Regions from separate parts of the Homo sapiens genome. Here regions 2 and 3 are each linked to region 1. The links come from fine-mapping of genetic effects on gene expression. A gene starts in region 1. Each other region holds a variant in brackets. All regions are shown on one strand. Distances are between the middles of the regions.

Evidence for each region. PIP is the estimated chance that this variant, and not a neighbour inherited with it, causes the effect.
Region 2: its variant is fine-mapped to the expression of WTIP in lung (TOPMed, PIP 0.95).
Region 3: its variant is fine-mapped to the expression of WTIP in monocytes after LPS (Fairfax 2014, PIP 0.95).

Annotation. Positions count from the first base shown.
Region 1 is chr19:34,477,896-34,486,074 of GRCh38, reverse strand. It overlaps WTIP (WT1 interacting protein), which reads right to left and starts at 4,317. Exons shown (of 8, transcript NM_001080436.2): 1 at 3,434-4,317. The coding sequence starts at 4,100. RefSeq lists enhancers at 3,279-3,933, 3,934-4,589, 4,590-5,244.
Region 2 is chr19:34,441,323-34,449,501 of GRCh38, reverse strand. UBA2 (ubiquitin like modifier activating enzyme 2) reads right to left here. Exons shown (of 17, transcript NM_005499.3): 7 at 5,591-5,658; 8 at 4,381-4,502. Among named protein-coding and RNA genes, the nearest start is that of UBA2, 17 kb to the right of the region's middle. The variant A/C (reference allele first, on the strand shown) is at 3,293.
Region 3 is chr19:33,608,629-33,616,807 of GRCh38, reverse strand. No RefSeq gene overlaps it. Among named protein-coding and RNA genes, the nearest start is that of CHST8, 9.2 kb to the left of the region's middle. The variant A/C (reference allele first, on the strand shown) is at 4,708.

The DNA.
Region 1 (8,179 bases):
AAAGTTGAAAAGGTTCCGGAAGCCCAAGGCTGTTGGCTGGCTAATGGCAGCGGAACTTGGGGAGGGGAGAGGGGAAAGTTCCAAAGACATCAGTGAATGGCAGAGAGCAACCAAGAGGTCAGCTGGTACCAGGGCCAAGGACAGGAAGAGATGAGGGGTTGGACAGAGAGAAAAAAAGCTCTGGCCAGGCGTAGTGGCTCCCGCCTGTAATCCCAACACTGGGAAGCCAAAGAGGGAGGATCGCCTGAATCCAGAAGTTCAAGACCAGCCTGGACAACAAAGCAAGATCTCAGGTCTACAAAACATAAAAAAATGTAGCCGAGCATGGTGATGCACACCTGTGGTCTCAGCTACTCAGGAGGCTGAAGCAGGAGGATTGCTTAAGCCCAGGAGTTCAAGGCTGCAATGAGCGCTGATCTCACCACTGCACTCCAGCCTAGGTGAGAGGGTGAGACCCTGTCTCTAAAAAAAAAAAAAAATTAATTTAAAACAAAAAAGCCACACTCTGAGGACGAGGTTTATCAGAGATCACTCGAGCTTATGCTACCTGCAGATTTTCTTTTGTAAAATGCTGTATTATTCTGGTTGAACTCTATGAAACTGCCACTTTTGTAGCTCAACAAAGTCAAATATCATCAGAACCATATAGTTCAAACAAATAGTTGCCCATATTTTTTAAAATCAGGAAAGTGGGCCGGGCATGGTGGCTCACACCTGTAATCCCAGCACTTTGAGAGGCCGAGGCAGGTGGATCACCTGAGGTCAGAAACTCGAGACAAGCCTGGCCAACATGGTGAAACCTCATCTCTACTAAAAATACAAAAATTAGCCGGGCATGGCGGTACGCACCTGTAATCCCAGCTACTGGGGAGGCTGAGCCAGGAGAATCACTTGAACCCGGAGGTGGAGGCTGCAGTGAGCTGAGATCGCACCATTGCACTCCAGCCTGGGCGACAGAGCAAGACTCCGTCTCAAAAAAGTTTAAAAAAATAAAGTAAACAAAATCAGGAAAGTATTACTGAATCTCAATTTCTAGTTTTTCTTGAAAACAAAATAAAAAAGGTCTATCATCACTCCTCTAACACTCTCAGGGCGCTACAACAGCCCGATCTGAGCAGCTTTTTTTTTTTTTTTTTTTTAAAGAAAAGACAGGATCTCACTCTGTCATCCAGGCCAGAGTGCAGTGGCACGATCATAGCTCGTTGCAGCCTGGAACTCCTGGGTTCAAGTGCTCCTCCCACCTCAGCCTCCCAAAGTGCTGGGATTACAGGTGTGAGCCACCGCACCCGGCCTAGCAGCTCCTCAGAAAAAAAATGTGCCACCACACCCTACCTTCTTGTATCATCTCCACATTACCTGCCTGGGACCTCAGCCACCCCTATATCATATAAAGATTCAGGGGTGTCTACAGAACACCCCCCTCCCCCGGGCTCTGCAGTACACAGGGGCCGGGAAATGGGCACTCTCCCCTGCAGAGGGCACTGGAAAGCATGCCCTTCAAAACTCAGCCCCAGCCTCTCTTCCTGGCACCTGCCTGACACGGGAGATGACAGCTCCTGGCACATCTCCCTGCTCCCAGGCCATCCAACAGGCGCCACGAGACCTGCCCAGCCACAGAGTCTCACCATGACCTCACAGATGGGAGGCGCTCTCCATCCCAAAGCAGGCGCACCTCCTCTTAGCCCACATATGCCCTCGACCACCTGAGCCCTCTGGGCTGCAACCCCAGGGGGAAGAGCGGGGCAATCTCTCATCCCGCCTGGCCTCCTCTGCTCATTCTTCCCTCTCTCTGGAATGCCCCCACCTGGCCCCTCACTGACAGACTCCTCACCCCTCAAGATCCAGTTCAGGGCCGGGCACGGTGGCTCACGCCTGTAATCCCAACATTTTGGGAGGCTGAGGCAGGCGGATCATGAGGTCAGGAGATCAAGACCATCCTGGCCAACATGGTGAAACCCCGCCTCTACTAAAAATACAAAAATTAGCTGGGCGTGGTGGCGCATGCCTGTAATCCCAGCTACTGGGGAGGCTGAGGCAGGAGAATCGCTTGAACCAGGGAGTCGGAGGTTGCAGTGAGCCAAGATCACGCCACTGCACTCCAGCCTGGCGACAGAGCGAGATTCCGTCTCAAAAAAAAAAAAAAAAAAAAAAAAAAAAGATCCAGTTCAGGGCAGCCGTGAGCTGCTGACACCATTGAACGCTCAAAGACACAAACCCCAGGACAGCCACGGTCCCAGGCATGGTGACCATCCATCCACCAAAGCCAGGTGCTTAATACAGAAGGCGGGTTGGGAAGTTCTCGCCCCAGGCCCCACAGTATACCTCTGCCCCGCTCACAATCTCACCCCAAGAGCTGTCCCAAGAACTAGAGATCAGGGGGCCTGGGCCACACTGGGAAGTGGAGGCTGTGAGGCTGCTGGGCTTTGCAGATGCACCTGCAGCAGGATTCCTTTAGGAAACATCCTATGTCCACAGCACAGTCCGGGCGAGGGCAGCCCCGTGTGACTGGCACGGTTCCCCTCTCCCGCAAAGTGGGCTTTTCTTCCCTCACACAGTCTCCCTCTCCAGCCGCTACCATCACCAAAGCCTGGGTCAGGCGGTATCCGGTGGTACCTGGGCCACTCCATCTCCCGGTTGCTGTCCACACCCATACCGTGGCGGGGCAGACGGGGAAGCACCCCTTTCTGCTCATCACGAAGCATGAAAGGATCAGATAGAATGAGAGCACCAAACGCAAAGAAGAAAAGATCAGGCCGGGCGCACTGGCTCAAGCCTGTAATCCTAGCACCTTGGGAGGCCGAGGAGGGCGGATCGCTTGAGCCCAGGAGTTTAAGACCAGCCTGGGCAACATAGGGAGACTCTGTCTCTACAAAAAAAAAAAAAAAAAAAAAGTAAGAAGAAGAAAAGCTGGGCATGGTGGTGTGCACCTGTAGTCCCAGCTTCTCGGGAGGCTGAGGCGAGAGGATCGCTTCAGCTTGAGAGGCGACGGCTACAGTAAGCCGAGGACGCGCCGCTGCACTCCAGTCTCGGCGACAGAGGAAGACCCTGTCTCAAAAAAAAAAAAAAAAGAAGAAAGAAAAAAAAAAAAGAAGAAAGAAGAAAAAATTATCAGAAAATGGCTCAGTGTGCCCATGAACCTGACTTGCCTGTTAAGTTAGGAACCGCACATCAACTCACTCGGCCAGAACCCCTCGTGTGTCGGGGGACCCAGAGGCAGGGGTGAAGCCGCTGCTGGGGATCCAGGCGCACTCACTCACCCTTTGCGCTCCCCAGTCCCCAGGGGATGCACCTTCCTCGTCCCAACCCCGTGCACTGCTGCACCCCCAGCCAGCCCCGTGCTCTCCTCCGCTGATCCGGCCGCCTACCCGAGGCAGTCTCGGAACCCCGGACCCCAGCCATGCGCGCAGGGAACTGCCGGGCCGAGCGAGCTCACCGAAGTAGTCCCGCGCCGTGCGCGCCTCGAGCGCCCGCTCCAGCTCCCGGGTGAGCGCCTCCAGCCGCCGCTCGGCCGCGCTTGGGCCGCCCTCCCGGCCAGGGGGCAGCGGGAGTGCAGGCAGCGGGAAGGGAGCCGGCCCCGCAGGCTCCGGGGAGCGAGCGGGCGCGGGGCAGGCGCCGGGCGGGAGGAAGTCAGCGTAGGCGCCGGCCGAGCCCCGGGAGCCGAGGCTGGAAACGCTGGAGCGGGCGCTGCCCACCGAAGGCGGCCCGGGACCGGGACGCGGGTCCGAGCGACCGGAGCGCGGGCTGCCGTGGCGCTGGTCGTAGCCCAGGCTGATGCCGCTGGATCGGGCGCTGCCGCCACCGCCGCCGCCGTCGGACCCCGCCAGGCTGGCCCGTGGGCTGCCCGCAGGCTGCGCGCTGAGCTCCGGAACCGCCGCGCGCCGGGGACCCCGCTCCCCGCGGCTCAGTCCGTCCGCCCCGGCCTCGGGGCCGCCGCTGCCCTTCCCTCTGCGGCCCAGCGCGGGCGCCGCCTCGTCTCCAGGCCCAGGCCGCGGCCCCCGCCGCCCCCGACCGGGAGAGCCGCACCCGGGCTCCAGCTCCCGCAGGGCCAGCCCGGCCAGGAGTAGGGCCGCCTCGTCCGCGCCCGCCCTGGAGCGCTGCATGGCCCGGCCCGCCGGCCCTGGCGCGTCACCTCCGCCTCCGCTTCCCGCCGCCGCTCCGGCCGGGCCGCCGCATCGTCCGCCCGAAGCCCGGAGCCCGCCCCGGGACCCCTGGGCGCGGGGCGGGGCGGGGCCGGCGCCGGGCCGGGGTCGTTCCGGCGGCCACGCGCGGGCCGGGGGACGCGGCGCCCTGCTCGGCGGCGCGCGCGGCGGAGGAATGTAAGCTCCCAGGCGCCGGGCCGCGCCCCCTCCTCGCCGCGGCCTCGCGCGGGGCGGAGGGACTCCTTTGCGGGGGCAGGAATGCGAGGAAGGAGACGGCGCTGCGGCCTCTGGAATGTGGGGGGAGTGGCGGCGGCCGCGCTGCGCCGGGACCTCGGAGGGGCGTGGAGGCCGGGCCAGGACGCAGGGGCGGGCGGCGGAGGCACCGCGGGGAGAGCCCAGGGTCTGCGGGGCGCCCGGGCCGTCGGGCCGCTGGGAAGAGCTCGGATTTCCGCAGGCTGAGCTGGAGGCAGCTGGCGCCATCCGGGCCGGAGAGATCCAAGCAGTCGACAGCTTTCCCCACATCCCGCCCCATCTCCCTTCCCTGCGCCGCCTTGCTCTCCGGCGCTGCAGGGCCGACCCAGCTCAGCTTGGAACCCACGGCGCTTCGCCCGTCCCGCGCCCAGGAATACTGTGCGCCTAGCGCAGATGCGTCCCCACGACCCCCTGCCTGGCCCGGGGCCATGTGGCCGCGCACCGGCCTCTGAAGCCCCCATCTGACTGCTGGGGAAGGCGCCCAGAACTAGGAGCGGGTTGGTTGGGGACTGGTCCTCGCGCTGGGTCGCTTCGCCCAGGCCCCCAAGGCCAGGCTAGAAGCAGGCCTCAGGCTCAGAGCCGGTGGGCGGCGAGCCTCCCCTGTGGCCATCACAGGCAGTCCCCGTGAAATATGGGGACTCCTCCCTTTTCCAGCACCTGCATCCAGGGTGGTGGGTGAGGCTTCGAGGGGAGGTCCTGGAACCAGCGGGGCCATAGGGGCCACATAGGTGGGGAATCGAGAGGTGACTAGGGCTTCGTGCCCAAGGACACAACTAAAATCCCTTGTACAAGTCACACGGCTATAGGGAAGAAAACCAAACCGTTATCTGTCAGGGCCTGATGGATCCAAGAAAAGTGTTGCGTGAGAGAGTACTGTTTTCCAGGCCCTCTCTGCTCAGAGATTTTCGGGAAGGCGCCTACAGTGGCTCAGCGCGCAGGGAGCCCGCACGGGAACTGTCCCGGCCAGACCGCCCAGGGCAGTGTGGCCTCAACACCACTGAGCACCCGCTGGGGCCGCTAACCCCAGCACCTTCCCATAGCCTGCGGAGTTCCAGCCCCTGCCCCACCAGGGTAGGGGAAGTGGAAGCAAGCATTTCGTGTGCGCGGAGGGTGGGGGAGTTGCGCTGTTTTGTTTTTTTCAGACAAGGTGTCGCTCTGTCCCCCAGGCTGGAGTACAGTGGTGTGATCACAGCTCACAGTGATCACACACACCCCAGAGTCTCAACCTCCTGGGCTCAAGCAATCCTCCCACCTCGGACTCCTGAGTACGTAGGAGTACAGGCGCACACCACCACACAAAACGCTGAGATTACAGGCATGAGACTCCGTGCGGGGTCTAGAAGCCAGCATTTGGGAGAGCAAATACCCAGGGAAGCCAGGACATGAAAAATGGTCTACCTTTCAAATGAGAAAGGAAAAGCCAGTTCAGTCATATCACATTTCATGGACTGCATTATCTACTATTTAAAAATTACAATATTGGCAGGACTGTGGTGAAACAGTTGCACATATGCTACTGGTATGAGTGCAAATTGGGATATCCTTTTGGGAAGAGCAGTTTGGCGGTGTCAACATCCGCACAAACGAACACGAAACTTAGAAGCAGTAATACTGCTGCTAAACATCTATTCAAGGGAAGTTATCAAAAATGCAGACAATAATCCAATCACAACCGTGTCGTATAATCCCAACATCATTTAGGTAATCTACAGCGGTCCCCAACCTTTTTGGCACCAGGGACTGGTTTTGTGGAAGACAATTTTTCCACAGACAGGGATGGGGAGGGTGGGAATGGCTTCAGGATGATTCAAGGGCATTATATTTATTGTGCACTTTATTTCTATTATTATTACATTGTAATATATAATGAAATAATTATACAACTCACTATACCATAGAAAGAGTGGGAGCCCTGTGCTTGTTTTCCTGCAACTAGACGGTCCCATCTGGGGGTGATGGGAGACAGTGACAGATCATCAGGCATTAGATTCTCATAAGGAGCACACAGCCTAGGTCCTTCGCATGCGCAGTTCACAATAGGCTTCGTGCTTCTGTGAGAATCGTGGTGGGACTCAGGTGGTAATGCTCCCTCGCCTCTGCTCACCTCCTGCTGTGTGGCCCAGTTCCTAACAGGCGGTGGTATACTGGTCTGTGGCCCAGGGGTTGGGGACCCCTGATCTATTCTGTCCTAGGATCTCCAGCCTTCTGAAAAGATGCTCAAAGGGAGCTCTCTGCATTTAAAGGCAGCTGTTGGGCTGAGTGTGATGTAATCCCAGTGCTTTGAGAGGCCAGTATGGGAGGATTGCTTAAGGCCAAGAGTTCAAGACCAGTCTGGGAAACATAGTGAGATTCCATCCCTACAAAACATTAAAAATTAGCTGCCAATGGTGGCACATGCCTGTAGTCCCAGGTATTTTGGGAATCTAAGGCGGGAGGATGCTTGAGCCCAGGAGGTCAAGGCTACAGTGAGCAGTGAGGGCACCACTGCACTTCAGCCTAGACAACAGAACGAGATTCATCTCTACAATAAAAAACAAAAAATTAAACTGGCGCGGTGACGGGCACTTGTAGTTCAGCTGTTCGGGAGACAGAGGCGGGAGGATTACTTGAGCCCAGGAGTCTGAGGTTACAGTGAGCTATAACTGTGCCACCACACTCTAGCCTGGGTGACAGAGCAAGACCCTGTCTCTACAAAAACAATAAAGTCAAGTATTTAATAACTGTTCTGGCTGGGCACGGTGGCTCACTCCTGTAATCCCAGAACACTGGGAGGCTGAGACGGGCGGATCACTTGAGCTCAGGAGTTTGAGACCAGCCTGGCCAACATAGCGAAACCCTGTCTCTATTAAAATACAAATACAAAAATTAGCTGGGTGTAGTCGTGCACGCCTGTAATCCCAGCTACTTGGGAGGCTGAGGCACAAGAATCGCTTGAACCCAGGAGGCAGAGGTTGCAGTGAGCCAAGATGACACCACTGCATTCCAGCCTGGGTGACACAGCAATACCCTGCCTCCAGAATAATAATAATAATAATAATAATAATAATAATAATAATAATAATAATAACAACTGTTCTTTCCCCACCTGCCCACTTAGAGCTTTCAAGATTTAAACTATATTCACATCCAGGGTCAGCTAAAACCTATTACTTGCTCTACTAGTAATAAATGACAACTACAAAACCCAGAAACAACCTAAAATGTTTGATATTTACCATTAGAATAGTTTAAGTACATCCTTGAAGTGGGAAATACATTAAGCAGTTATATTCAAAAGATTTAATGAATGGCTTGGGAATCAGACTATTGTGATGTTAGGTGGATTTGAAGTAGTCTGCAGAATTGTGGGGTCTCATCTCTACATTACCCAAATGTCCCCCTGACCCCATCTTCTATCTCCTCACTCCAGGGGTATTGAGTGATCTCAACAGACTGGCTCCTTCTGTCTGAGATGCACAGTCCAGGAGAAGGATGGGGATGGGGCTCTCTCAAGGGATTTAAAGCACTGTCCATGGACTCAATGTCCAGCCCCCACTGATTCCCCCTCTGTCCTCCCCTGTTGCAGGAATGTTCTTTGTGTTCACCTCTCTCTGGGCATTTTCCTCCTGAGTCCAGTGGTGTGCTGGTAAATGTCTAACAACCAGCTCTCTGGGGAGGAATTTGTATAAATCAGGAGCCCTGATGTGTAGCATTTGCCAATTACCATGGTATAAATACTCCCAGCATGGCCAATTTCAAGCTATAAAGATGGGGCCACTGAACTGAGCTGGAAAGAAATGGGTATAACC
Region 2 (8,179 bases), 37 kb after region 1:
CCATTTCTATCAAAATATACTTAATCCATCAATACTAACTGAGCATCCTTAATCTTTATAGAGAATAAGCCAAACATACAAATAATCAGAATACAATTTAGTGTGAATATCACAAAGCCTTGAGTAAGGATTTCTGGCCAGGCGTGGTGGCTCACACCTGTAATCCAGCACTTTGGGAGACCAAGGTAGGTGGATCACGAAGTCAAGAGATCGAGACCATCCTGGCCAACATGGTGAAACCCCATCTCTACTAAAAATACAAAAATCAGCTGGGCGTCGTGGCGCGTGCCTGTAATCCCAGCTACTCGGGAGGCTGAGGCAGGAGAATCGCTTGAACCTGGGAGGCGGAGAGTGCAGTCAGCTGAGATCGCACCACTGCACTCCAGCCTGGCAACAGAGTGAGACTCAGTCTCAAAAAAAAAAAAAAAAAAAAAAAGATTTATATTTTATCTAAGAAATAAGGAAAGAGTCTCCTTATGACAGCAACATGTGAAATGGGTACAAAGGCAAGGAGATGAATCCACTATGACTTGGGTAACAAATGTGGCTGGAAACATTTTGTAGAGGATCTTGAAGGCTTGAACCAACAGTTTTCTAAGCCTAAGCTCCATCTCTTCTATTCAACTATTACTAAATATCAGGAGCCCCTCAGATTTCTGTACTGAACCATCTTTTCATTCTGTCCTCTGTGGTGTATCATGTCCATTTCCAGTAGTTAACCACATCTATAAACCTAGGAATCCCAACCATATCCCTAGTTGAAACCTCTCTACTTATCTACAAAACCACTTCTCTAATGTTCCAAAAGAATCTCAAATGAGTTCAAAATTGATTATTATCACCTTCTCCTACCCTCCCCCAACCCCTCTACACACATCTGCCTCCCAGCTCACTTATATCGGAGAACAGCACCTCTGTTCTTTGACCTGCCCAGGCTGAAGTGCAGTGGTGTGACCATAGCTCACTGAAGTCTCAACCTCTTGGGCTCAAGTGATATTCCTGTCCCAGCCTCCTGAGTAGCTGGGGACCGCAGGCTCAGGCCACCATGGCTGGCTATTTTTTTTTCGTTTTTAGAGATGGGGTCTTGCTATATTGCCCAGGCTGGTCTTGTGCTCCTGGCCTCAAGTGATCCTCCCGCCTCAGCCTTCCAAAGTGCTAGGATTACAAGTGTAAGCCACAGTGCCCAGCCAGGTACCATTTTTTATTCCACTGATCTTCACCATATACATGCAAAGTCCTGTTTAGTCTACTCCTCCATGTTCCAGTGGGAGTACAGATGGCTGTACTCCAGATTATTCTGGCACTGCACAACTCCAGGGGCACTGTCCCAGATTGGTTATAATATGAATATCAGATCCTAGGGTAGTATGTGCATCCCCTCTATCCCCTTATAGTGATCCTGTAAGACCACCTTTCAATGGATTCCCACTGTCTTGCTATAACATCCTTAAGAAGGCCTAGAAAGTCTGCCTGATCTGACCTCAACTTCTCTCTCCAGTCATCTTTTTCCACTCTCCCCCTTAATGGGATTTATGTCAGTTTTCCAACTGAGAGTTTCCTTGTACATACTGTACCCTATTCAGAGTTTCCTTGTACATACTGTACCCTATTCTGACTCTTATTCTTTCAAGCCTTGGGCTTAAATGTCACCTGCTCTAGAAAGCCTCTTCTGAAGCCTCTCCCTAACAACATCTGAAATGGGTATGCAGGCCAGGAGATGAGTCCTTTAGATGAAACTTATTATTCAAGGGCTGCAAAGCATCTGAACTTAATGTCATTAAGACTCTGAAGCTGAAATTTATTGTTCAAAGTTTGACTTCTCATCTAGACTGTGAACTCCCTCTAAAGAGCAAGGACTCTGTCTTCTGTCTTGTTCACAACTAAATCCCCTGTACTTAAAGAGGTGTCTGGCACACAGCAGATGTTTAAAATTATCTGCTAAATAACAGATTGGAGATGCACTTCAGATTTTTCTGGCTTTCAAGTCTTGCTCAGATTGGAATGGAAATAAGGATACTGGTTTGGAAGATACTGCTGTTGACCATATCGAAGTTTACGGCATCTTAAGTATAATCAAAATAAAAACCATTATGATGCTTAATACTGAGTGTCAACTTGATTGGATTGAAAGATGCAAAGTACTGGTCTTGGGTGTGTGTGTGAGGGTGTTGCCAAAAGACATTAATATTTGAGTCAGTGGACTGGGAAAAGCAAACCCTCTCTTAATCTGGGTGGGCACCATCTAATCAGCTGCCATTGAGGCCAGAATATACAGCAGCCAGAAAAACATGAAAAGACTAGACTGGCCTAGCCTCCCAGCCTACATCTTTCTCCCATGTTGGATGCTTCCTGCCCTCAAACATCAGACTCCAAATTCTCCAGTTTTGAGACTCAGACTGGCTCTCCTTGCTCCTCAGCTTGCAGATGGGCCTATTGTTGGGCCTTGTGATCGTGTGAATTAATACTCTATCAACTCCCCTTTGTATATATCTATCCTATTAGCTCTGTCCCTCTAGAGAACCCTAATACAACCATGTTTTAGAAAAGGGCTGTAGTGAGGAAATAAATGCAATAGGGATAAGAAAGTCAACCTGTGGGCTGGGCACGACGGCTCATGCCTGTAATCCCAGCACTTTGGGAGGCCGAGGCAGGCAGATCACCTGAGGTAGGAGTTCGAGACCAGCCTGGCCAATATGGTGAAACCCCCTATCTACTAAAAATACAAAAATTAGCCAGGCATAGTGGCGGACCTGTAATCCCAGCTACTCAGGAGGCTGAGGCAGGAGAATAGCCTGAACCAGGAGGCAGAGGTTGCAGCAAGCTGAGATCATGCCACTGCACTCTAGCCTGGGCGACAGAGCAGGATTCTCTCTCAAAAAAAAAAAAAAAGAAAGAAAAAAAAAAGTCAACATGTGACATCTGTTACCACTGAGGAAATAAGACGAAATACAAGCTGGGGAGAGCAGTATGTCATTTGATTAAGACAGCAGAACCTGTGCGTGTTGGAAAGCAGACAAAAGAAACCAAGAAAAAAAAGATCCGAGACACAGGACAGAGACGAAAATCCTGTCTGAAGAATGGTACAAAAGGAAAGCAAAACACCACATGCAAAAGTTAGCCTTTACCGAAAGTGGATTCTCTCCAGCAGAAAGAAAAAGAGTTTTCGGTTATGTGGAACAGTCTCTCAACAGGTAAATTATGTCCAATGGTTTCAAACCTGTTATTATATCCTTAAGGTCATCTGCTTAGTGAGAGTTGCAAGAATACTGAGGCAGTTTGATAAGAGCTGAGA[A/C]AGTTTTAAGCTCTGTGATAAACTTGCTAGGGGCTAGGCTCAGTGGTTCATGCCTGTAATCCCAGCACTTAGGGAGGCAGAGGCTGGAGGATCGCTTGAACCCAGGAGTTTGAGACTTGAAACCAGGAGTTTGAGATCTGCCTGGGCAACATGGTGAGACCCCATTCTCCACAAAAAGGAAAAAAAGAGTCAAAAAAACCCCACACACGTACAACTTGCTAGGGAGTCAAGACAGAACAAAAAAACTTTTAAAACACGGACCTACGGGTCTAGATGAACAATAATTAGGTAGACCCAATAAAAACAATTTCACAGATTTCTCTAGAAATATTTAACAGGCAAATAGTATATACTACTGATGAAGAGGGATTTCACCAAGAAAAAGGGGCTTATGGGGTTCAAGGGCAATTTAGGACACATGTCAGTCAAACTGCTAATAGCAGATATGAGCAAGAAATAAAAGTGAACATGAAGCCAGGAGCAGTGGCTCACGCCTATAATCCCATCACTTTGGGAAGCCAAGGTGGGCAGATCACTTGCAGTCAGGAGTTCATGACCTACCTGGCCAACATGGTGAGACCCCGCTTCTACTAAAAATACAAAATTAGCCAGGCCTGATGGTACACACCTGTAATCCCAGCTACTCGGAAGGCTGAGGCAGGAGAATCACTTGAACCCAGGAGGCGGGGCTGCAGTGAGCCGAGATCGTGCCACTGCACTCCAGCCTGGGCGACAAGAGTGAGACTCCATCTCAAAAAAAAAAAAAAAAAAAAAGTGAAGATGAGAAGCAGCAGGAAAACGAAGAAGTTCTGTAAAAAGTGAGAGAAGGAAAGACAACCAAGAAGGTATACAAGCCACCTCTCATTTTACCTCCTATTTAGATGTTATACTGATAGATTTAGTGTAGATGGTAACATTTTAAAACTTGCATATCCTGACTGCATCAATCATTTTATTAGGACATCACAAGGCATATACATAGAAGCTTAATTCAATTTTATGGACTATTTTAAAACAAGCAGAACTAGAACAATACATCTATGCACAACAATACATCTATCCATGATTATAAAAAAAGTAAATCTAACCTTGGTAAAAAGTTTAACTGGATCATATCCAGTTGATTTAGCCCATTCCTTAGTAGAAATACGTTTAATGTCACCATCTTCATTAGATGCTCTAGCTCTGGCTTCGGCTTCCGTTGGTTCCCCTATAAAACGATCATTATTTTATTTTCAACCGTAATAAATGTAGAACTGAACTCTTTTCACTCACCTTTGGGAATAAAAAGAAAGTCACTCATGGAAATCCCCAAATGCAACACATTCTGAGTTCAAGGAATAAGAAAATAACACATTCATCAGCATCTTTTTGTATCCCAGTTTCTTTCTTTCTTGTTTTTGGAGACAAAGTCTCACTCTGTTGCCCAGGCTGGAGTGCAGTGTTAAGATCTCGGCTCACTGTAGCTTCTACCTCTTGGGCTCAAGCCATCTTCCCGTCTCAACCTCACAAGTAGTTGGGACTACAGGTATGCACCACCATGCCTGGCTAATTTTTATATTTTTTGTAGAGACAGGGTTTTGCCATGTTGGCCAGGCTGGTCTCAAACTCCTGACCTCATGCAATCCAGCTGCTTCAGCCTCCCAAAATGCTGGGACTACGGGCGTGAGCCACCTTGCCTGGCCTGTTGTAACTTAGTTTCTGAAAGCTACACATATAACAGTTCAAAGCACAGACCAGTCATGAGATCTAGGAACAACTCGCAGCTCTATTTACTAGACTTGTGAAATTTCTCTTAACCTTGATTTCCTCATCAGTAAAACGGAATCATATTTTTTTTGTAAAACATTGTTTTGGATAGGCACGGTTGCTTACGCCTGTCCCAGCACTTTGGGAGGCCAAGGCGGGTGGATCACCTCAGGTCAAGAGTTCGAGACCAGCCTGGCTAACATGGTGAAACCCTGTCTCTACTAAATATACAAAAATTAGCTGGGCGCGGTGGCAGGTGCCTGTAATCCCAGCTACTCAGGAGCCTGAGGCAGGAGAATCATTTGAACCCAGAAGGCGGAGGTTGCAGTGAGCCGAGATTATACCATTGTACTCCAGCCTGGGCAATAAGAGAGAAACTCCACCTCTGAGACAAAAAAAAAAAAAAAAAAAAAAAACAAAAAAAAAACACATGTTAAACACACATTACCTAGCACATATAGCAATTTTTTTCCCTTAAGCTACCAAAATTAAATCAACAAAATAAAGATAATAGTATCTGATAAAACATATGCCAAATAATTTACTCACAGGCAGCTTCAGGGTCAGCTCTGTCAGGAGATACTTCTTGATCAGCATCTTCTTCCCCAAACAACTGGCTATAATTTAAGAATAGTAAATACTTCTGTATAACAAAGCATTCTAAACAAACATGTAATTTAGAATATTCCAAATATTTAGCAGAGATAAAGACTGAACAACTGGCTGGGCGCAGTGGCTCACACCTTTAATCCCAACATTTTGGGAGGCTGAGGCAGGCAGATCACAAAGTCAGGAGTTCGAGACCAGCCTGACCAACATGGTGAAACCTCGTCTCTACCAAAAATATAAAAATTAGCCAGGCGTGGTAGCGCACGCCTGTAATCCCAGCTACTCGGGAAGCTGAGGCAGGAGAATCGCTTGAACCCAGGAGATGGAGGTTGCAGTGAGCCGAGACTGCACAACTGCACTCCGGCCTGGGCAACAGAGCAAGACTCCGTCTCAAAAAAAAAAAAAAAAAAGTGAATAACGGATAAATGACTATAAACTTAAAAGTTTAACACAATGTGCTTGGACAGCTTGCATCCCAATTTCAACAGCAATGTAAGCAAGGTTAAATTTTAGCAGACCTACATCCATTCCTATCAGCGAGGCTCTGCACATTTCAATGTTAAAACCTCTGCTCAAGAAACAGGTGAGTGGTTTTCACTTACAACCTGGATAACATTCTAACACCAGAATAATGTTTGTGTTTACACCTGCAGCTACCTGTTCAACAAACATTATTATATACCTCAGGTGCAGAGTCCCCATCTAGGGGATAGAAATTCAGCAATGAACAAGATTAACTTTTTTTCATGGTAGAATGGCTCTTTACTGCTGAACAGAGTGTTAACAAACAATTTGAAAGTATTAAGCTGAGATTCTCTTTTATTAATAAAGTTATCCTAAAAACTGTTTAATAACTCATGGATATAAAAGTTTCCAGTATTTCCTCAAGTATATGATTAATGAAAGTTATCTTACAGAAATCCTTTGTACAACCCCCCACCCAACTATAATTTCAAAGCTCTGATAGTCACTCCCAACAATGGCATGTTAACACTTCCTAAAATTAACGCTTTGCCAACTAGTGAGTGCAAAATAGTAGACAGCCGCTAATTTAAAATGGTCCACCAATGATTTTTCACCTTTACAACAGGTTTATTGAGGTTATATTAAAATGCATTTTTGGCTGGGCGTGGTGGCTCACATGTGTAATCCCAACACTTTGGGAGGCCGAGGCGGGTGGATCAACCGAAGTCAGGAGTTTGAGACCAGCCTGGCCAACAAGGTGAAACCCTGTATCTACTAAAATACAAATATTAGCTGGGCGTGGTGGCAGACGCCTGTAATCCCAGCCACTCGAGAGGCTGAGCAGGAGAATCGCTTGAACCCAGGAGGCAGAGATTGCAGTTGCACTGCACTCCAGCCTGGGCAACAAGAGCGAAACTCCATCTCAAAAAAACAACAACAAAAAAAGCATCATTTTTTACTTAATGGTATTTTTTATTTATGATGAGTTTATCGGGAAGTATCTGAGAAGCATCTGTAGCTTACTATGGTCTTATACTTAATTTTCCAAGTAAGTCTTATGATTAAAACATAACTTGCTTATTGCTTATTTAGGTTTCCCTTCGAGTGAAAAATGCTGCTCATATTAATTTTGCCAGATTATCTTTTTTGTGTGTGTGACAGGGTCTTACTGTCCCCAAGGCTAGTGTGCAGTGGTGTGATCACAGCTCACTGCAGCCTCGACCTCCTAGGCTCAAGTGATCCTCTCACCTCAGCCTCCCAAGTAGCTGGGACCACAGGCATGTGCCACCATGCCTTGCTAATTTTTAAATTTTTTGTAGTGATGGGGTTTCACTATGTTGCCCACACTGCTCTCAAACTGCTGGGCTCAAGCAATCCTCCTGCCTTGGCCTCCTAAAGAGCCGGGATTACAGGTGTGTGTCACTGCACCTGGCCACATTATCTTTTTTTTTTTTTTGTCTTTTTCTGAGACACAGTCTCGCTCTGTCCCCCAGGTTGGAGTGCAGTAGCATGATCTCCATTCACTTCAACCTCCGCCTCCCAGGTTCAAGCGGCTCTCATGGCTCAGCCTCCCGAGTAGGTGGGACTACAGGCGTGTGCCACCACACCCCACTAATTTTTGTATTTTTAGTAGAGACAGGGTTTCGCCATGTTGCCCAGGCAGTTCTCAAACTCCTGGCCTCAAGTGATTCACCCACCTCAGCCTCCCAAAGAAAAAAAATGTTTGCCAAATAAATAAAGCTTCCAAGTGTAGTTTTTGTGAACATTTATCAAGTTGACACTGTTATGTATACTTTTCTGAGTGCAAAAATTAAAGACAATGTTTGCTGAAGGTTTCTACAAAATACCCTTTATCGGGTTGAGAACATTCTCATTTTAGTAAGAAGTTTTTTTATTTTTAATTTTATCTATTTATTTATTTTTTATTTTTTTGAGACGGAGTATCGCTCTGTCGCCCAGGCTGGAGTGCAGTGGTGCAATCTCAGCTCACTGCAACCTCCGCCTCCCGGGTTCACGCCATTCTCCTGCCTCAGCCTCCTGAGCAGCTGGGACTACAGGCACCCA
Region 3 (8,179 bases), 870 kb after region 1:
TAGGCTGGTCTCGAACTCCTAGGCTTGAGTCATCTTCCTGCTTGGCCTCCCAAAAGTGTTGGGATGATAGGCATGAGCCACCATGCCCTGCCAGACTTTCTTAAAAGGACACTGGGGAATCCAACAGAGCAGAGAGGCGCTGAGTACCCAGGAGGGAAGAAGGCAGGAACCAGGGAATAAGGTTCGAGTACTCTGGGGGCAGCTGTTGGCTCTCTAGGATGGGTCGCCATCCCTAGAGCTGCAGACCACTCACTGCCTTGGTGGCCCTGATGCGCTCCCCACAGCCTGAGGTGGGCAGGCCTGCAGGGGGCTTTGCTGACCCCAGAGCCCAAGACAGAGCCATGCCCAAGCCAAGTCCAGCCCCTCCATGCAAACCAGGCTTGGAGCCAGCTTGGCTACTCTATTGAGGTCTTGCCAAACTCAAGTTCATTTTGATGCTTCTTAATTAAAAAAAAAAGATCTCCACTGGACTGCCTGCTCCTGGTCACTCCTTCAGTTCCCAAGTATCCTTGAGACGGATGATCCTCCAGTGGCGGGGCTCCTTCTCCAGGCCTGCCCGTGGTGGGGCGAAGGACACTGTCTAAGGTGATGATGAACTGCAGGAGGGGGTCTAAGACGCTCTTGACAGAAATAGTAGAGATTCTTCTTTTTACTTTTGGGGTAAAGAGTTTAAAATTCTAGAATATGTCCATGTCACAATTCAGTAAATCCTATTTAATTGGAACCAAACTAATTCAGCACTCACGTCATACACGGCCAGGCTGAAGTTTACTTTTTTACTGTCAGTCAAAGGCAGTGGGAATAGGCTTGCAGGGGGAACATCTCCCCCACCTTGTACAGTAAATGGATTTTGACTTCTATTAACATTGGAGTCCTTCTGTGCATCTATCTGCATTCAGATACGAATGAGCTCATTATAAATAGTTCTCTCTATTCAGTCAAGTTGGCTGGGCTAACCTTGTTTGGTTATATGTTGTTAGTCATTAACTGGGGTAGCGATTAAAATAAGGAAATTACTATATGACCTAAATAAACAGCACTTCTATTTAAATGCTCCCTAATTTGGAGAGCTCTCTGGCTTAGTTCAAATTGTCCAGGCTCAGCACTTGCTACTGGCTTCCCAGAGCAGAGTGGCTGTAGCTTGCTCAACTTTACTCAACCTTCTGGAGTCTGAGTAGGGCAGCAGGGCCTCTGAAGTCAGGATCTCCTTTCCAGAATCAGAGCCCAGAGTGCATTTTCAAAACTCCTGTCCTGGCCGGACACGATGGCTCACACCTGTAATCTCAGAATTGGGAGGCTGAGGCGGGCAGATCACGAGATCAGGAGATTGAGACCATCCTGGCTAACACTGTGAAACCCCATCTCTACTAAAAATACAGAAAATTAGCCGGGCATGGTGGCACGTACCTGTAGTCCCAGCTGCTCTGGAGGCTGAGGCAGGAGAATCGCTTGAACTGGGGAGGCGGAGGTTGCAGTGAGCTGAGGTCATGCCAGTGCACTACAGCCTGGGCAACAGAGCAAGACTTCATCTCAAAACAACAACAACAACAACAACAAAACTCTTCTGTCCTTTCCAAGTGTCTTTCCATCATGTGGTAGGAAAGTTGGGCTTAAGTATCTTCTGAGTTCCTGACGTACTTAAAAGCATTTTTTAAAATCCAAACTTGAATTCTATTCTAAATGTAATGCTTGGTTTTAAGGATTGGGTTTGGAGATTTTGAGAAGAAAGAAAGGATTACTTTGAAATGAATAAAACTGTTTCCCCAGGAACACTGCAGAAGCATTTATCAGATGCCACTGGAGGCATGCCGTTAGGTGAGGAAGTGCACTCTGAGACTTCCCTGCCCCAGGGAGGTTTATGATCAGATGGGCTTAGAAATGTGGCATCAAGGACACACCAGTGGTAGTGTCATAGCCAGGCTAGGGGGACTGCATTCTGGAGGAGGCTCAGATCTGCACCCCCAGAGCTAGAAAGCAAAAGGGTCACCAAGCTCGGTACTAGTTATTGCCTGCCCGAGACAGACATTCTAAAAAAAAAAAAAAAAAAAAAAAAATCTCCCAAATGTAGTTGGTAGGTTTCCAGGTTTTCTCAGTCCCTTTTGGCATAGGCAAGTTGTGCCGTAAACCATGTGGGCGGCCACAGCAGAGATGGAAAAACAGCAGCAGGTATGGCCTTTCTTCCCTAGGCAGTCCTGAATAAGCGTTATTTTCACAACGCACAGGAGCCCACACAGTGCCTGGCAGTATGAATCTCTCCACTGGGACTGAAAACAAAAGCCTCACAGATGATGCATCCAAGGAGACAAGATCAGGGGGAGCCCACCCATCAGGCAGGATGCCCCTCAGAGGGACATCCGAGAGCAGCAGACCTGGAATGCCAGCCCCATGTCCAGCACCCGACCTGGGCCCCTGAAGGTAAGCCTCTGCCATCCACTCTCCTGCGGGAAGACGCATGTATTAGTCCGTTCTCACCCTGCTATGAAGAAATACCCAAGATGGGGTAATTTATAAAGGAAAAAGGTTTAATTAATTCCCAGTTCCGCATAGCGGGGTAGGCTTCAGGAAACTTACAATCATGGTGGAAGGCACCTCTTCACAGGGCGGCAGGATGGAGTGAGTGCAAGCAGGGGAAATATCAGAGGCTTATAAAACTGTCAGATCTCGTGAGACTCGCTCACTATCACGAGAACAGCATGGGGGGAAACTGCCCCCATGAGCCAATTACCTCCACCTGGTCCTGCCATTGACACGTGTGGATTATGGAGATTACAATTCAAAATGAGATTTTGAGTGGGGAAGCAGCCCAACCATATCAGTGCAACAGGAAATTTACAAGTTAGCTTTGGAGGGATGTGCTCAAATCCTTATTTTACAGGTCCACAGAGGTGAAGGAGAAACTGGAAAAACCGAGATGCACAAAATTTTTTCCAAATTGGAAGCAGGTAATACTAAAATGTACTGTCAACTCCTTCTGTCCCTGGCTCAGCAAGTGACAGCCAGCCAGCCAGGCTCCCAGGGGACACCCCCTTTCCAGCTTTGCTAAGCCGTCCTCCAGTGCAGAGAAGGTGTCAAGGTCAGCAGATGGCATGGCCTGCAGAAGGTTTATGGAGACATCTCCGGCTTTCCCAGATTCCTGGCTGCAGAAGTGTGTTCTGAATGGACACCCTTGGACATCTGGAAAAATGATACTCTCTCACCAAAAATAGAAGGTGGTTGGGGCAGAAACTGAGACCAGCAACTGCCATTTTGTGGCTGGGTTCTCCCAGCACCCAGGAAACTTCATCCCTCAGGCAGAGCCTGGGATGCCCTGGAGTTGAAAGCACTGCCCAGTGGCGTCCTGTCTGTAGCTATGGAAACAGAGAGACAGTCGCCTCCCTGTTGGCTTTCGTGCCAGAGACATCTTGCTGTCAGTTGTGTTTAAAGTTAGCTTGAAAACAACAAGACGATGCAAGTCTCCTCTTTTGACATCATGCAAGGGGCCCTATGGCACGGAGGCAGCCATGAATATCGCAGTGTGGAACCTGTCACACTCCGTCCCCCGTCCCTGTCCTCAGAGAGAGCTTCCTGTATGCATTCTTGTTGCAGTGATGTCTTGGGCTCTGATGAGTGCACCCTTCACGCCTGTTCCTGCATTGGTGCCTTGTCCCAAGATTCAGGGGGACACAGCATGGGCCAGCTCAGCCCCAGTTACAGATGTGCTAAGATGGTGCCCAAGCCCAAGCCCTAGCTGGAGGCAGGCTCGGAGGCAAAGCCCAGCTCCCTTTACTGGTGTCTGGGCCATCTGCCTTCAGGCACAGACTGTCCAGCCAAGGTCTTGCTGAGGAACTGCAAGGGACAGGTTGTGGGGGGCAGGCGGTGGGCAGTGCAAAGGGGTAATGCAGCTCACCCTCAAGGAGGAAGGCTGGAAGACAGATAGACAGACAGATAGACAGACAGGGACAGACAGACTTTAACTAGAGTGCAAGGCAGACTGGGATGGAGCCATGAACAAGGTGGCTGAGTTGTCTGCGCTGGGAATCAGGCATCAAAGGTCGCATTTGCCCTGACCTAGTCTCACCTGGCATGGCCTCACTTATAATAAGACTCTCAGTCATAAAAACCAAGGAGACAATGATTCAACACGTATTTTGTTAAACACAGAGGATACCCTGACACCTACAGATAAAGCAATCTCACTTCCGTGCTCAGAAAAGAAAAAAAAAAAATAGAACCTGCAATTAGAAGGTAAGATTGCTGAATTCTGGAAAACAAACCTAGCATTTAGGAAAGACAATGTCTGGGGCAGGCCACTAATCAATCAGGGCCTCTGGAGGGAATTAAATAGGGTGTAGACAAGGAAAGATAAGCATTTAATTTATGTAGACTAAACAGATTTCTCACCAAAGGTCATCAAAAATATTAAGCTGCCAGGTACAGTGGCTTGTACCTGTAATCCCAGAATTTTGGGAGGCCAAGATGGGACAATCACTTGAGGCCAGGAGTTTGAGATCAGCTTGGGCAACATAGTGAGACCCTGTCTCTACAAAAAGTACAAAAATTAGTCAGGTGTGGTGTAGTAGTTCCAGCTACTCAGGAGGGTGAGGTGGGAGGATTGCTAGAGCCCAAGATTTTGAGGCTGCAGTGAGCTATGATTGCATCACTGCTCTCCATCCTGGATGACAGAGTGAGACCCTATCTCTCTCTCTCTCTTTCTCTCTCTCTCTCTCT[A/C]TATATATATATGCACATATATAATATATATTTTATATGTACACATATACACACACATATATGCATACACACACTCACACACATTTATATATATATATAAAGCTAACATTATTCCATTTTTGAAAATCATAACCAGATGGCATGTATTAGTCTGTTCTCACATTGCTATAAAGAACTACCTGAGAATGGGTAATTCATAAAGAAAAGAGGTTTAACAGCTCACAGGTCTGCAGGGTGTACAGGCTTCTGCTTCTGGGGAGGCCTCAGGAAACTGACAATTACGGTGGAAGAAGAAGCAGGCACATCTTACTTGGTGGGAGCAGGAGGAAGAGAGAGAAGAGGGAGGTGTTACACACTTTTAAACAACCGGATCTCATGAAAACTCTATCACAAAACAGCACTAGGGGGATGGTACTAAACCATTAGAAACCACCCCCATGATCCAGTCACCTCCTACCAGGCCCATCCTCCGACAGTGGGGATTACAATTCGACATGAGATTTGGGTGGGAACACAGAGCCAAACCATATCATTACACTACATGAGAGATGCTTGAATCAGGCCAGGCTATTGGAACACAACTTGGTGTCTACCTTGGCTTGTTCCCCCAAAAGGAGGCAAGAGACAAGCACATGGGTTCAGGCAGCTTGTTTGGGAGTGATCTCAGGAAGTACAAGGCAGGCTGGCAAGCTTTGATGGTACCAGGGAAAGTCCCTGGTAAAGAAGAAGAGAGATGTAGGTGCTTGAGATTACAACTGCCTCCTGAGGTTGAGCTCGGGTGGGCTGAGCAGATATGGGAAGCCATCAACAAGACCTGCTACAGTGTCATAATCAGCACAAGACACTCTATGCAAACTACTGTTTACATACTTTTTCTCCTCCAGTTTGGTTGTTACAACGCATTCCTTAAGGATGTTAAATTGTCAATATTGAAGTTCTTCCTGGGATGTCTTTGAGAAGATGGCAACAGTGTTAGGGGCATCATTTTGAATATGCCACTAATAAAAAACAGACAAACTAGATAGCAAAACCAAAAACCTATGGGAAACACTCACAATAAAACTAGTGGGCAATGCATCCCCTAAAACACCAAAATATTGGTGGGTAGGGACTGCCTATTTTGTAACTAACAGTTATTAAACTGGCATAGTATTAGTATGCATACAGAAGGAATCAAAGGGAAGAAACAGGGTGTTTGTCATCTCTAAGAACAGGAAACTGCAGTTTGGATGTGACTTGTTTGTCCCCACCAAAATTCATGTTGAAATTGGATCCTCTATGTGGTGGCATTGGGAGGTGGGGCCCAGTGAAAGGTGTTTGAGTCATGAGTAGATTAATGCCCTCTCTAGGGACTGAGTTCTTGCTCATGAGGGAATGGATTAGTTACAATGAGAGCAGGATGACAAAAAGAGTCTGGCTTCCTTGGTTTCTCTCCCTCTTGCTTACCCCCTTGCCACGTGATCTTTTTGTGCACATCCCCACTTCCCTTCCATTTTAGGCAAGAGTTGAGGCAGCATGAGGCCCTCACAGATGCAGCTGCTCCATCTTGAACTTTCCAGCCCCAAGAATCATGAGCCACATAAACCTCTTTTCTTTATAAATTACTCAATATTCTGTTATAGCAACATAAAATGGACTAAGACAAGGAGTAACCCCAAAGAGGCAATAGGTATTCATTCACTGGAAAGTACAGAGATCCAGCTTCACAACAGGAGCTGAAACGGGAAGGGTTTTGCTCACTCCATTAGTGTGTAAGTACAAAGGGCCTCATGTAAAAAGATGAGAAGAGGATGGAGTAGCATAGCCCCTGTGAACTCTTGAAACTGACCAGCCAGGTCATCCTTCCAGGACAAGGCTGCACATCAAGAAGACACTGCTGAAACAGGAAACAAAATTGAATAGAGCAGGAATGATAGAGGGGAAGGAAGCAGAGTATCCAGATAAAAGTAGAGACATTTTTATAAGAACCAGGAATCTAAAAAAATAAAATAAAATAAGCTGCCATATTTTTTAACAGTGCATGAAAACAACAAAAGAGAAAGCTTTGTGAAGTTATAAAAGCTGTCTTGAACTCAACCCCATTTTTAAGTTCAGAAAAATTAATTTCACCTTTACAAAAATGAGCAGCAGGCAAAGATCAAAGTCCTACTCTATACAGTTTTTTTTTAAAAAGAGTAAGAAATAGAATAACATCTTCACAGATAATGAAAAACATGCCAAAAGATATGCCTGCAAAACAAAAAACTATAACCTACTGTTTTAAGACAAGCTAGAAGCAATTATTTAAACAAAATAAGATGCAAAAAAACCCAACATAAATCAGAAATAGAAAAACTCAGAAATTAACAAATTTAGGGGGGGAAATGAGTTTAAAAGAAAAAAGTTTCAGAAATTAAGACTAACCTAGAAAGATTGCAAGAGTGAATAAACACAAGAGATAATTCCTCAGAAGAAACAGAAAATGAAACAAATGGAAATTTTTAAAAATCTAAGAAATGAGCAAGGATATAAAGGCTTCAGGAGAAAGTGACAAATCTCGAAGTTGGGTAAAGAGGATCCAACATACAGAGAACAGGGTTCCCTGAAGAAAAACCCAAAGCAGGGATCAGAACAAATACTAGAAGCTATAGTTCAAAAAGGTACTATGTTATTTAGAAATAAAAAGTTTTCAAACTACATATTGAAAAGTCACACCATGTTCCTGAGAGTACTGACCCAGAATGACTAACACCAAGGCATGAATTTAGTGAAATGATAGAACTTCAAAGGAAAAGAAAAATCTTTTGAGTGTCTAAGCAAAAATAGCCCATGATTTGTAAGGGATTGGAAATTGGATTATCATCAACTTTTTGACTGCAACATTTGTGCCAGAAGAAAATTGAGTAACATATTTAAATAACTCAAGAAAATAAAATGTGAGCCAAGGATCTTATATTCAGGGAAACTGACTTTCAAGTATAAAGGGTACAAACAAACTTATCAGTATGTAACAGTTCAGGAAATATTGTTCCCATGATTCCTTCCTGAGGAATTCACTAGAGAATGAACTTCAGAGAAACAAAGTGTCTAGAGAGACATCAACATAAGGTGGTGAACATTAAATATATAATTTACAGAATTAAGAATAAGTGAAAATTTTAAAAAAGCATAGTATATAATGGCTATATTCTCTGACAATATAGATATAGTACAGTTATTTATAAATTGAGGGATAAGAGAATAAGAAATGCATGCAGAAAAAAAGCATAATAAAAAAATTTTAACTGTTTTCAATAATGATGTTGATGGAAGTAGTATTGGCATTTTATACTAAGAATGCTGTGTGTGTAATATGGGATAAAGGAAATAAGTAATTCTTGTGTATTTCAATTCTGTCATCTCCTGGGCCTTTGAGAACTAGGATTTTTTTTGGTGAGAAAAAGGAGTTCAGGAATAAGAAAGAATTTAAGTAAACATCCAATAATTCCTTTAC